2 separate regions of the Homo sapiens genome follow, and region 2 is linked to region 1. The links come from fine-mapping of genetic effects on gene expression. A gene starts in region 1. The other region holds a variant in brackets. All regions are shown on one strand. Distances are from middle to middle. Region 1 holds the start of PARVB (parvin beta). Region 2 overlaps PARVB (parvin beta).

The links. PIP is the estimated chance that this variant, and not a neighbour inherited with it, causes the effect.
Region 2: its variant is the best candidate, but not a certain one, in a credible set for the expression of PARVB in whole blood (TOPMed, PIP 0.54).

What each region holds. Positions count from the first base shown.
Region 1 is chr22:44,021,397-44,026,763 of GRCh38, forward strand. PARVB (parvin beta) reads left to right here and starts at 2,906. Exons shown (of 13, transcript NM_013327.5): 1 at 2,906-3,055. The coding sequence starts at 2,944. It overlaps LOC124905131 (a long non-coding RNA gene), which reads right to left and starts at 1,379. Exons shown (of 2, transcript XR_007068125.1): 1 at 55-1,379. RefSeq lists silencers at 2,774-2,883, 2,914-3,033, 3,104-3,153, 3,204-3,413 and enhancers at 4,184-4,263, 4,274-4,353, 4,394-4,443, 4,514-4,563, 5,064-5,173.
Region 2 is chr22:44,066,888-44,072,254 of GRCh38, forward strand. All of the region lies in intron 1 of PARVB (parvin beta), which reads left to right. Among named protein-coding and RNA genes, the nearest start is that of PARVB, 45 kb to the left of the region's middle. RefSeq lists enhancers at 372-937, 938-1,501, 1,584-1,733, 1,894-2,033, 2,066-2,629. The variant G/C (reference allele first, on the strand shown) is at 2,458.

The DNA.
Region 1 (5,367 bases):
AGCAGGTGAAAGGAGGGAAGGAGAAAGAAGGTCAGAAAGAGAGAGAAACTACACCTGAAGCCTGCTTCCAAAGATCCAACATGATAACACAGGACTATCGTTCCCCTTTATTGCTCTGAAGCTGTTTCCACACTGCTTCAGGAACCAAGGAAAAAAGAACAAATATTGTAACAAAAGATCTGCTTATTGCTATAGTCACTGAGGAAATAACAAGGGTGATGGGAATTATGAGCCAGGCATGGTGGAGGAAAACCAATGCATAAATATCATCATCTCACAGGGTCTTTGCAGATGATGAGGTGAAGATGAATCACCAGGATGGGCTCTAATCCAACATGACTGTGTCCCTGTAAAGTCTAGACTCACACACACACACACACACACACACACACACACACACACACACACACACACACACACAGGGCCTAGTAGAGACGGAGGCAGAGACGGGGCAATGCTTCTACAGGCCGAGGAACATGGAAGATTTGCTGGCAAACCCCAGGAGCCTGGAGAGATGCAGGGAACAGATTTGCCCGTGCAGCCTCCAAATGGAAATGAACCTAGCCTACACCTTGATTTGGATTTCTGGCCTCCTGCTGAAATCCTAATCCCCAGTACACAGGGGTATTACAAGGACACGGTCATCTTGGATTACAGCCCACTCTGGTGACTTCATCTTCACTTGATCATCTGCAAAGACCCTTGTGAGATGATGATATTTATCAATTGGTTTTCCTCCACCGTGCCTGCCTCATAATTCCCGTAGACCTTGTTATTTCTCTCCAAACTGTGAGAGAAGACGTTTCTGTTGTTCTGAGCCCTCCAGCTCATGGAACTTTGTGCTGGCAGCCCCAAGACACCCCAGTGTCCTCTCCCTGTCTCTTCTGCCTGGTGGGTCTTCTCCTCCTTTACTGAAAGGAAAAGGGCATTTGATCCTTGTTCCAGGTCAAATGTCCCTTCCCTGCAAGCCTCCTCTGCCCACAGCACTTCTCCCCCACCCCATCCACATGGTCCCTGTCCCTCCTCCATGCTGGCCACGCTACACGGCCACTGTGTCCTGTGCCCACGTTCTCCTTGACCACAAACTCCTGGAGGACAAAGCTCTGTGCCCTTGGTCTTCACGCCCCTGGCTGAGGACTGGGCCTGGCACCAACTTGACCAACAGAAACATGTACTGCACTGGGGGGACTGGGGGGCAGCCAGCACAAAGGGAGACAGAAAAACCATCTCAACCCACACACCCAGAGCTGAACCCACTTCTCCCCAGGTGCCGTCCTCTGCTGAGTGATCCACCATGGCCTGGCAGGACACCCAGCCTTCACTCCTCCTACTTCTTTTTTTTTATTTTTTATTTTTTTTTTATTTTTGGAGACAGAGTCTCGCTCTGTCACCCAGGCTGGAGTGCAGTAGCATGATCTCTGCCCACTGCAACTTCCACCTCCCGAGTTCAAGCGATCCTTGTGCCTCAGCCTCCCAAGTAGCAGGGATTACAGGCATCCACCACCATGCCCCGATAATTTTTGTATTTTTAGTAGAGATGGGGTTTCACCATGTTGGCCAGGCTGGTCTTGAACTCTTGACCTCAGGTGATCTGCCTGCTTTGGCCTCCCAAAGTGTTGGGATTACAGGTGCGAGCCACTGCACCTGGCCTACTCCTCCTACTTCTTCAAGGCTGGGGCTTCTGGCTGTGAGCATCTCAGAAATCTGTTTGCTTTTCTCCTAAGTCACCGTCCGCCTGCCTGTGCCTTCTCTGTCTCCAGCACCTGCTGAGCAGCCATCAGCCAGAGGCAACATCTGTGACATCACAGCTCAAAGCCCTGCCTGGGTATCTAGGCTGGGCATGGTGGCTCACACCTATAATCCCAGCACTTTGGGAGGCCGAGGCAGGCGGATCACCTGAGGTCAGGGGTTCGAGACCAGCCTGGCCAACATGGCAAAACCGCATCTCTACTAAAAATACAAAAATTACCCGGTCGTGGTGGCGTGCACCTGTAATCCCAGCTACTCAGGAGGCTGAGACAGGAGAATCGCTTTAACTCAGGAGGTGGAGGTTGCAGTGAGCCGAGATTGTGCCACTGCACTCCAGCCTGGGCAACAAAGCAAGACTACGTCTAAAAAAATAAAATAAAATAAAACAAAACAAAATAAAATAAAATAAAATAAAATAAAATAAAATAAAATAAAATAAAATAAAATAAAATAAAATAAAAATAGCCCTGTCTGGCAGTCCTCGGGATGAAGCCGTTTCCTCTGCTTCCAACACATGCGAGGCCTGTCTCCCCTCCTCTCCCCTCCCTGGCACCCCACACTGTCCCCAGGGCCTGCTCTTCTGCTCACCTCATGGTACCGGCCTGCAAGCCATTTCCTGGGGCCTCCCCGTCGCCTCTTCCAGAAACAACTCCTGGAACTCCCCTTGGAGGTCAGGCCAATGACCTGTGCCCCGCATTGCCCTCCATCCTCTAAGCTTCCCGTGGGTAGGGACAATTCCCAGTTCTGAAGGGCTCCCCCTGCCCCGGGCCTGGCTCTTGGCAGAAGCTTAACAACAGACCGGCCACGTTCGTGTGACCTGATTCTCTCCGGCTTTCAGGACGTCCTGAGGCTGCACCCACGTGGCAATGGTGTCTGTCGCGCTGTCGCCTGGATCCGGCACCACTAGCGGAGCCGAGCAGAGCCCAGGGCTCCAACGCGTAGGGAAAAGGCTGCGCCGCTCCCGGGGTGGCCCCACGCCCCTTCTCTGAGCTTGAGCGGCGGCGCGGGACGGGGACGGCTCTGGCCGGGACCAGCAGGCCTCGGGCATCCGGGACGCCGGGGCCGCGCTCCAGGCCAGGGGCGGGGGCGGGACCGGGGCGGGGGCCGGCGGCGGGGCCGCGCCCTCGGCCTCTCCCCGGGGCGACCGGGCGGCTCCACACGCGCTGCGCCCGCCGCCGGCCCCACGCGCGGCCCATGTCCTCCGCGCCGCGCTCGCCCACCCCGCGGCCCCGCAGGATGAAGAAGGACGAGTCGTTCCTGGGCAAGCTGGGCGGCACCCTGGCCAGGAAGCGGAGGGCGCGCGAGGGTGAGTGCGCGCCCGCGCCCGCCGACCCCCGGGGACCTGCCCGGCGGTGCCCGCCCTCGGCCCTAGAGCCCCACGAGGCCGCCCCCGCCCTCCCCCACGCACCCCGCCCGGCCCACGCGGCTGCGCGACCTTCGGGACAGGCCAGGCCTTTGACCCAGGACCCGTAAACAACGGCCGGGACCTGGCGCGTGGGGCCGCGGTGGCCTCCGGAGTCTGCCAAACGCGCGTGCGGGCGCCTGCGCGGCGGGGACCTCGGGCCACCGTGCGGGGCCCGCGCCTGCTCTGCCTGCCGGGTGTTCAGCTCTTCCCTGGGCCAGCGGCATAGCCAGCCGCGCGGGGTGACCGTTCATTCCATGAGCAGTGACGCTCACGTGTGCAGGGCACTCTGGGCAGACACGGCCTGGGGGACCCACTACTGGGTGTTGCGCGGGCGCCCTGCAGGGTGCGGGGCTCAGGGCGTGCAGGGCTGAGGCCTGGGAGGCCTGCGAGCAAGAATTGCAGAGATCCCATTAAAAATTTTTTTTTTTAAATTTTTTACTGCGTGTGCTCACGAAACACTACCAACCTCGTACGTTTTAAAGATTGTTAGAGTTGCAAGGGATAGTCTGGTGTCTTTAAGTGTACCGCTTGCCCAGGGCCTCCTGGGAGATACATTCTGGAATTTTCTGCTTGGGTGGGGAGGTTCTGCCCCGGGACCATGCCCTATAGTGAGATTTCGGATTGGTGAGAGGTGAGGGGAGCTGCTGTGGAAAGGCAGATGGAGAAAGGCCGGCCTCAGGTGGGTCCCCGGGAAGGAGCCCTCCCATAGCGGGTATGCAGTACGGTTTCCTTAAACCACCTGGGCCTGACATATCCCCTGGGAACTCTTCCTGTGCCTCCAGGGATTAGTGTACCCCGGGATGCAGGTCCCCCATTCATTTCTTCCCTGGGACTCTTGTATTCCTAGGGATGTGTGTGCCCCGGGAAGACATATGACAGATTTGCCTCTAGGCATGTGTGTGCCCCCATGCACCTGCTCCCCAGGATTTTTGTACAGTGCAGGGAACGCTTGGTTCCCCAGACATTTTCTCCCAGGGATGCCTGTGCCCCCAGGGATGCGTGTCTTCCCACCCGTGATCCTGTTCCAAGAGGGCAGGGTCTTGTCCCCTTCAGTAGGTCTCCTGGCGGATAGGTCACTCTTCTCTCAAGCCTTACACTGGAGGACCCACTGTAGCTTGTATTGGTCGGTGTTGGTCACGTCTCCTAAATGACATGATTAGTGGCTGTCACCCTTCTATCATCCCCACTGTTCTTCCATGCAGTCATCAGCACCCTCACCAGAAATCATTTCGGTTCCTCTTTATGGCTTGCAACGATTATAGACGCAAGTGACGCTCCCCTCCCAATTCAGCCCACAGCCTGTGGAGCGCCCGCCATGGGCCAGGTGCTGCTTAGACCCCAGGAAGAAAAGAGCGGGGGCGGGGTGCTTGCTTTCGTGGAACGGGGAATGAATACATAGACAACTGGCGCTGTGATGACGTGCCCCGGAGCACATAGAACAGGGCGATCAGAGCCAGGGGAGGCCTCTGAGGAGGGGACACTTGAGTGGAGGCCAGAAGGAACCAGAGGAAAAAGTCTTTCATAGAATGGCAAGGAACCGGAATGTTCTGGGCTATTGCAGCTTTTTCTAGGTGCCGTTTACGCTCTCGGAATAGGAAGAACACACACCCAAAGTAATGGACTGGGCCCAAATTCCAAAGTACGCAGTGCTTCTCCTCCTTGCCTGTATGAATTGATGTGTGTCTAGAAAATTCAGGCCCAGCCTGGTTTAATTCAAATGCACCAAGAATTCCGGTAGCAGGAAGCATCCTGTGCTGAATAGAACGGGCGTGGAGGCAGGAGGAGGAGCAGGACGCCGGGCACTGCTGATGCTGCTTTCGCTGGGGGTGAGCTGGGCGCCCTGCCTCGGTTCTCAGGGTTGGGGTGCCTGGCAAACAGAGGGCCACAAACCCTCCTTGGATCTAGGCACAGGAATTGAGGGACAGGCTGGATTGGGAAGGGTTTAGCGGCTTCTGTGTGGTCTCCTGGGAAGTGGAAGAGTCAGGAAGACTGGATAATGAGGGCTTGAATAATTGAGAGTCGCTGGTATTTCCGCAAGCCCATTTGCCTTGGCAACATGCGCTTCTGCCACTCCAGGGTGGAGCAGCCCCTGGCCCTGACTTTGGGCCGTCAGAGCTATGCTCGGTTGCCTACCAGGGAGTGACAGGGCGCTTGGGAGGTTTCCACGACCCTGCCTGCTGCACCGTCGGCTTCATTTCCTCCTTTGTTAGAAA
Region 2 (5,367 bases), 45 kb after region 1:
TTCTTAGGCAGGGTCTCACTCTGTTGCCCAGGCTAGAGTGCAGTGGGATGGTCATAGGCTCAAGTGATCCTCCTGCCTCAGCCTCCTGAATAACTGGAACTACAGGTATGTGCCATTGTATCTGGCTAAGTTTTTGTAGAGACAGGGTCTCACTATGTTGCTTAGGCTGGTCTCCAACTCCTGGGCTCGAGCGGTCCTCCTGCCTTGGCCTCCCAATGTGCTGGGAGTACAGGTGTGAACCACTGTGCCAGGCCCCTTTAATTTATTCTGAAAATGGCGTGTCAGGAGCTGGGTCTTGGCTGCCTTGCTTGCATTGTGAAATCCCCTTGCCTGGCAGGTAGGAGGCAGTCGATGCATACAGGGTGAGTGAATGAAATGTTAGTTAGTTGCATTACATTGAAGTGGTCTAAACCTGACTCTAAGATGTGACTACTAGGCTGCTGATCCTTTTATGATTTTTCAAGTGCGTAGTTATTTTCCTTTTAAAAGCTAATCACATTTCCTTTCCTGACTGATCCTCTGTTATTTCTGCCTCCTCCCCCAAGGGGCTGACCACCAGCCCCAGGCATCTCCTTGGCCAGCTCAGTGGATACACACACGTCAGGAAGACCCTCCCTTGCCCCAGCCTTCCTTCGTGGGTGGCACTGGACACTGGGCAGATGGAAAGGCCCTCTCCATGGAGCACTGGGCTGGCGAGGGCCTTCCTGTCTGTGCCCTCATGATGTCCTCACTTGGCTGTCGAGGCATCTCCTGGGCCATGAAGTGCTGTTTGCTGTCCTGGCCTTGGATTCCTGCATCAAGTCTCCCAGCAGGAAAACTGTTAAACCAAAACCAGTGTTGGGAACTGCATCAGAGCTGGGGACCACATCAGTGCTGGGGACCTGGATCAGCATTGGGGACCTGGATTAGCCCTGGGGACCTGCATTAGTGCTGGGGACTCGCATCGGCATTGGGTGTCTTTTTGTTGCTTCCTCAAGTCCTAGTTTTGACTCTGGATGAAGCTTGGTTTGTGCCGTGGGAGTGGAGTGTTGGGGGACAGGGGTGACCGGCGGGTGAGCCCTCACTGTTGATCCTGGCCTCGAATGGGAGAGGGGCACTAGTGCCCCTGGGAGTGGGCCAGGCATGTCCCAGTCCACTGCCTGCCCCAGAGCCCCGCCTGGAGCACCTGCTGGGTCGGGACATGGGCCTCCCGTGGGCCTCACCGCTTCCTGCTTCAGCAGAACTGGGATTGTCAGTTAATCGAGCAACACCTCCAGGAAGCCAGCCTCAGGAAAGAGCTTCCACAGGGAGTTGGGGGACTGGTAATTGGAATAAATAAAAGCTAATCGTGCTTCCTGGATGCCAGGAACCACTGAAATTTGTGGATTCCCACAGCAGCACATGAGGCTGGTCATTGTTAATAACCCCTTTTTACCGACGAGGAACCCAGACCAGACAGAGAGCCCGCCTGTGTCACCTGGTAGGGAGGGGCTGGGCCTGGTGTTATAAACCAGGAGAGGGTTCAGGCCGAGGAAAGGGGGAGCAAGTTGCCGGCCAAGGTAGGTATCATGCGAGTCCTACTTCTCCCCTCATTCAAGGACCTTCCTTTGGGGAAGTGAGTGCTCCCGAGAGCAGCCTGCCGCCTCCGTGTCGGGGCAGCCTCAGCTTCTTCTTTCTGTGTCCGATATTTGATTTCTGTTGTCGTGGAAACGGGGTGGCAAGTGTTCCATGTGTTAGCATTTGGTCCTCCTGACGTAGTCGGCACACGGGAGATGCAGCTGGGGTGGCACGTGCCCACAGTGGTGCCACCTCTTGCCGGGGGTCAGGCAGAGGAGACCCAGCTCCGTGCCAGCTTGCAGACCCCCAATCACTTCTCCTGTCTCAGGGCCCAGAGAGCAAAGGCAGTGGGAGGCCAATGTCTGTTGTTCAGTTTAGCTCTGAGCCACGTGCATCTTCAGTCAGCCCAGGGGCCTGGGCGCGCCCTTCCTTCCTTCTTTGTGCATGGGGGTTTTCCTGGGGAGCAGTTGCCCTGGCCCATGAGGCTGATGGGAGTCAAGACAGAAATAGTGGTCTGTGGTCAGCAAGGAGCTATCGCTGGAAACACCCCGGTCCTTCCACAGCCTGACCCTCTGTGACCTTCCTCAAAGGCTCCCCAAAGAGGCTTTCCCTTGAAGTGCAAGTCATAGTGGCGCCCCTGCCACGTCCCTATATGAACGGGGTGTGTGCCCGCCTGCCCTCCGACGTCCGCCGGCTGTGCTGGTCTGCAGAGCTGCCGCCAGCTGCACCCTCCTCGCCAGTGAGTTCTGTTGCTTTCGTATCATTTTCAGCAGGAGCTAAACCCAGGCCAGCCCTTCTTTTCTTTTCTGCTTTATGGCAGAATTTTGTTTTGCAAGAATGGACCCTGGGTGGCTGCTTGACTTTTCCCAGGAAGGTGATGGGGACGTTGGTGTTAGGACGATGGGCAAGGGGGTCCAGGTT[G/C]TCTCACTGCGGCCCCAGAGGGATGAGGGTCTGACTTGTGGAGTGAAATTTCCAGCACTCTGCTGGGGGCGAGTAGATCATTGGGCCCAGAAGAATGGGATTTGGAACATTCTCAGGCACATGCTGCAATTAAGATTTTCTTTTTCATAGGGGTACCTGATACTGTGGGTTTCTCTCTCTCTGTCTTTTTTTTTTCTCTCTGAGATGGAGTCTTGCTCTTGTCACCCAGGCTGGAGTGCAATGGCGCGATCTTGGCTCACTGCAACCTCTGCCTCCCAGGTTCAAGTGATCCTCCTGCCTCAGCCTCCCAAGTAGCTGGGATTACAGGCTCCCGCCACCGCGCCTGGCTAATTTTTGTATTTTTAGTAGAGACGGGGTTTCATCATGTTGGCCAGGCTGGTCTTGAACTCCTGACCTCAGGTGATCCACCCACCTCGGCCTCCCAAAATGCTGGGATTACAGGCATGAGCCACCGCGCCCGGCCATGGGTTTCTCGTTAGTGGTCTTCGGTTCTGTGTTTCCCCTCTAAGTAGCTGATCGTGGCCGGTGCCTGGCTTTCCCCTGGTCACCACTAGATATTCTGTCTTGTCTTTGGGAGGCAGAGTCAGTAGAAGGTGCTTTGCACTGGGCATGCCTGGGAGTGAGCCCAGCCTTGCTGTTATTAGCGCCCATCGTGACGGTCGGCCAGGCTGCCCTATGTTCGATTTTTCCTCCTGTGAAATGGGAACAACAGTAGAGCTGATGTGTCCTGGGCTTTCTGCATCCCAGGGACTATCCCAGCTCCTTAACGTGCTTTGCTCAGTGCTATCCTCCTAAAAAGTTTTCTTTTACAGTTGAGTAAGCTGAAGCCCAGAGAGGTTAAGTAACCTGCCCAAGGTCACACCGCAGATCGGAATGGGAGTCAGGAGTGTACCCAACAGCCTGGCTCCCTAGTCAGTGCTCTCAACCTCAGCTTGAAGGCCGCCTCCCTGGGCCCTGCTAGGGGACCCAGTAAGATGACAGTTATTCACATTCTCCTTTGTTTCTGATACCAAGCAAACTCCTGGTAAATGCTCCTTCCCCACTTTTGTGGAATAAAGAATGCACATTTTTTTCTGAGCTCTGCCTGGGTATCCTTAAGGAGAGGGACGCTGTGCCTGGGACGCAGATGAACAAGATAGGAGCTGTTTCCTGGAGGAGCTCCCAGGCTGATTTTTGCCTTTGATGTTCTGCATCTTTTTCACAGGCTTTTTGTAGATGTGTGGGGATATTTCTAGAGGAGAAACCAGAGGTGGAAGGAGGGGCATAATGAAATTGAATGCTGGGCATCTCTTAGCTCACATTATATGAGGCTCTTCAGGGACAATAGACCTTGCAATAAAAGGCAAAAAGGTGATTGCGCACAGAGTGCTTTTCCTGCACAGTGCTGGGCGGGATGGGGTGGATGGGGCTTGGCGGCTGGAGGAGGGTAGACCCTGCCCGCACCTCCTGGGACCTGTGCGGGACTTTGCTCACCTTGCTGTTTCTAACCAAGGTACCAGATTCTCTTCACTCAGGTGTGTCAGATTTTAACCCTTGAGGCTAGAACCTTGCCAGGCTTATTCGAAGTCAGTGGTTCCTAGTAGTCACAGGGCCCCTGCCCTAGACCCCAGACCAGGACCCCCCGGCCCCTGCCCGCCCGCCTTGGCCTGGTGGGGTAGGAGTCACTGTGAAAGGGGTCCTGGAGCCCAGTATCACTCCAGCGACATTTCCCAGAGAGCATCCTGGGGCCAGTGTGGGGTGTGGGGGAACAGATACTGAGCGCTCTGTCCCCTCCCCTTGGAGAATCTCACAGTACATTAGCAGAGTCAAGACTCTGAGAAGTCCGGTAGGAAAAGACACCTGCTTAGCTTCCCTTAACTTCACGACTCCTCCACCTCCTTGACCTTTGCTTGATTCATGTGTGACCTGTGAACGTCTAAACTGCAGGACTCACTTTGGGAGATACTGATGGAGACCAAATAGGTGTCCTGCTCATATATCCTCCACTTCTTCAGTTTTGCTCAGGATCCACTGGGCTTCCTAAAATGCAAACGAATTGAAAAGCTGTGCTGAATGTGTTTTTCTCTGTCTGAAAGTACAGCCACCCACGAAAGGAGGAGGTCTGCTAAGTTTTCTTTTAGAAAAGGGGTCCCCAGGCTCTGAATGCTTGAGGACCTCATTGGGATCACCCCCTCCATTGTGGGCTACCCATCCTCCACCCGCTGTGGCCTATTGATAACCTCCCAGCCACCACCTATGCTCCTAGAGGCCCTGACTGGAATCCCTGTCCTCACCCTGAGTTTGTCACCTCCTTCCAAACTTCGTGTCCTCTGTTGCAGTTGAGGACCTGGAAGTCATGATTGGGCTGATTAGTGATGGGTGTTTATTTTGAATTCTTAACTAAACAAGGAGGAATCACATCCTAGCTCCGTATTTTACTAGTTATGGGACCTTGACTTTCCCAAGATCTACTTTCCTTGTCAGTAAAATGGCAATAATCGGGGTAACCCATACCCTGATTGCTGAGAACCCCTGTAGGCGTCCATGCCTGGCCCAAAGCCAGGACCCAGGAAGGGAGGCGCAGCTGGGCGGCCTCTTCTGCGTCTCTGCCAGTTGCTGGCTTGGATTCTAACACCCTCCTTCCCTCCCTCCCTCGCTCTCTACCAGTGGGATCTGAGACCATGAAAACGTTTGAAGGTTTCTCAAGCGTCTGTGACTGCCCCACGTCTGTCGTTGGGTGGAAAGGACTTTGTAATTGAACGGAGTCAGTTGTAATGTGAATGTCATGTGGAGCTGCTTTTCCTTGGCAAGTCCTTGCTGTGTGAGCCATTGTTTCCAGATCTGTAGAACCCTCCCTACCCTGTCCCCCTTTCCGGGCTATTGGGAGGCTGAGCGAGCTCATCATGAGGC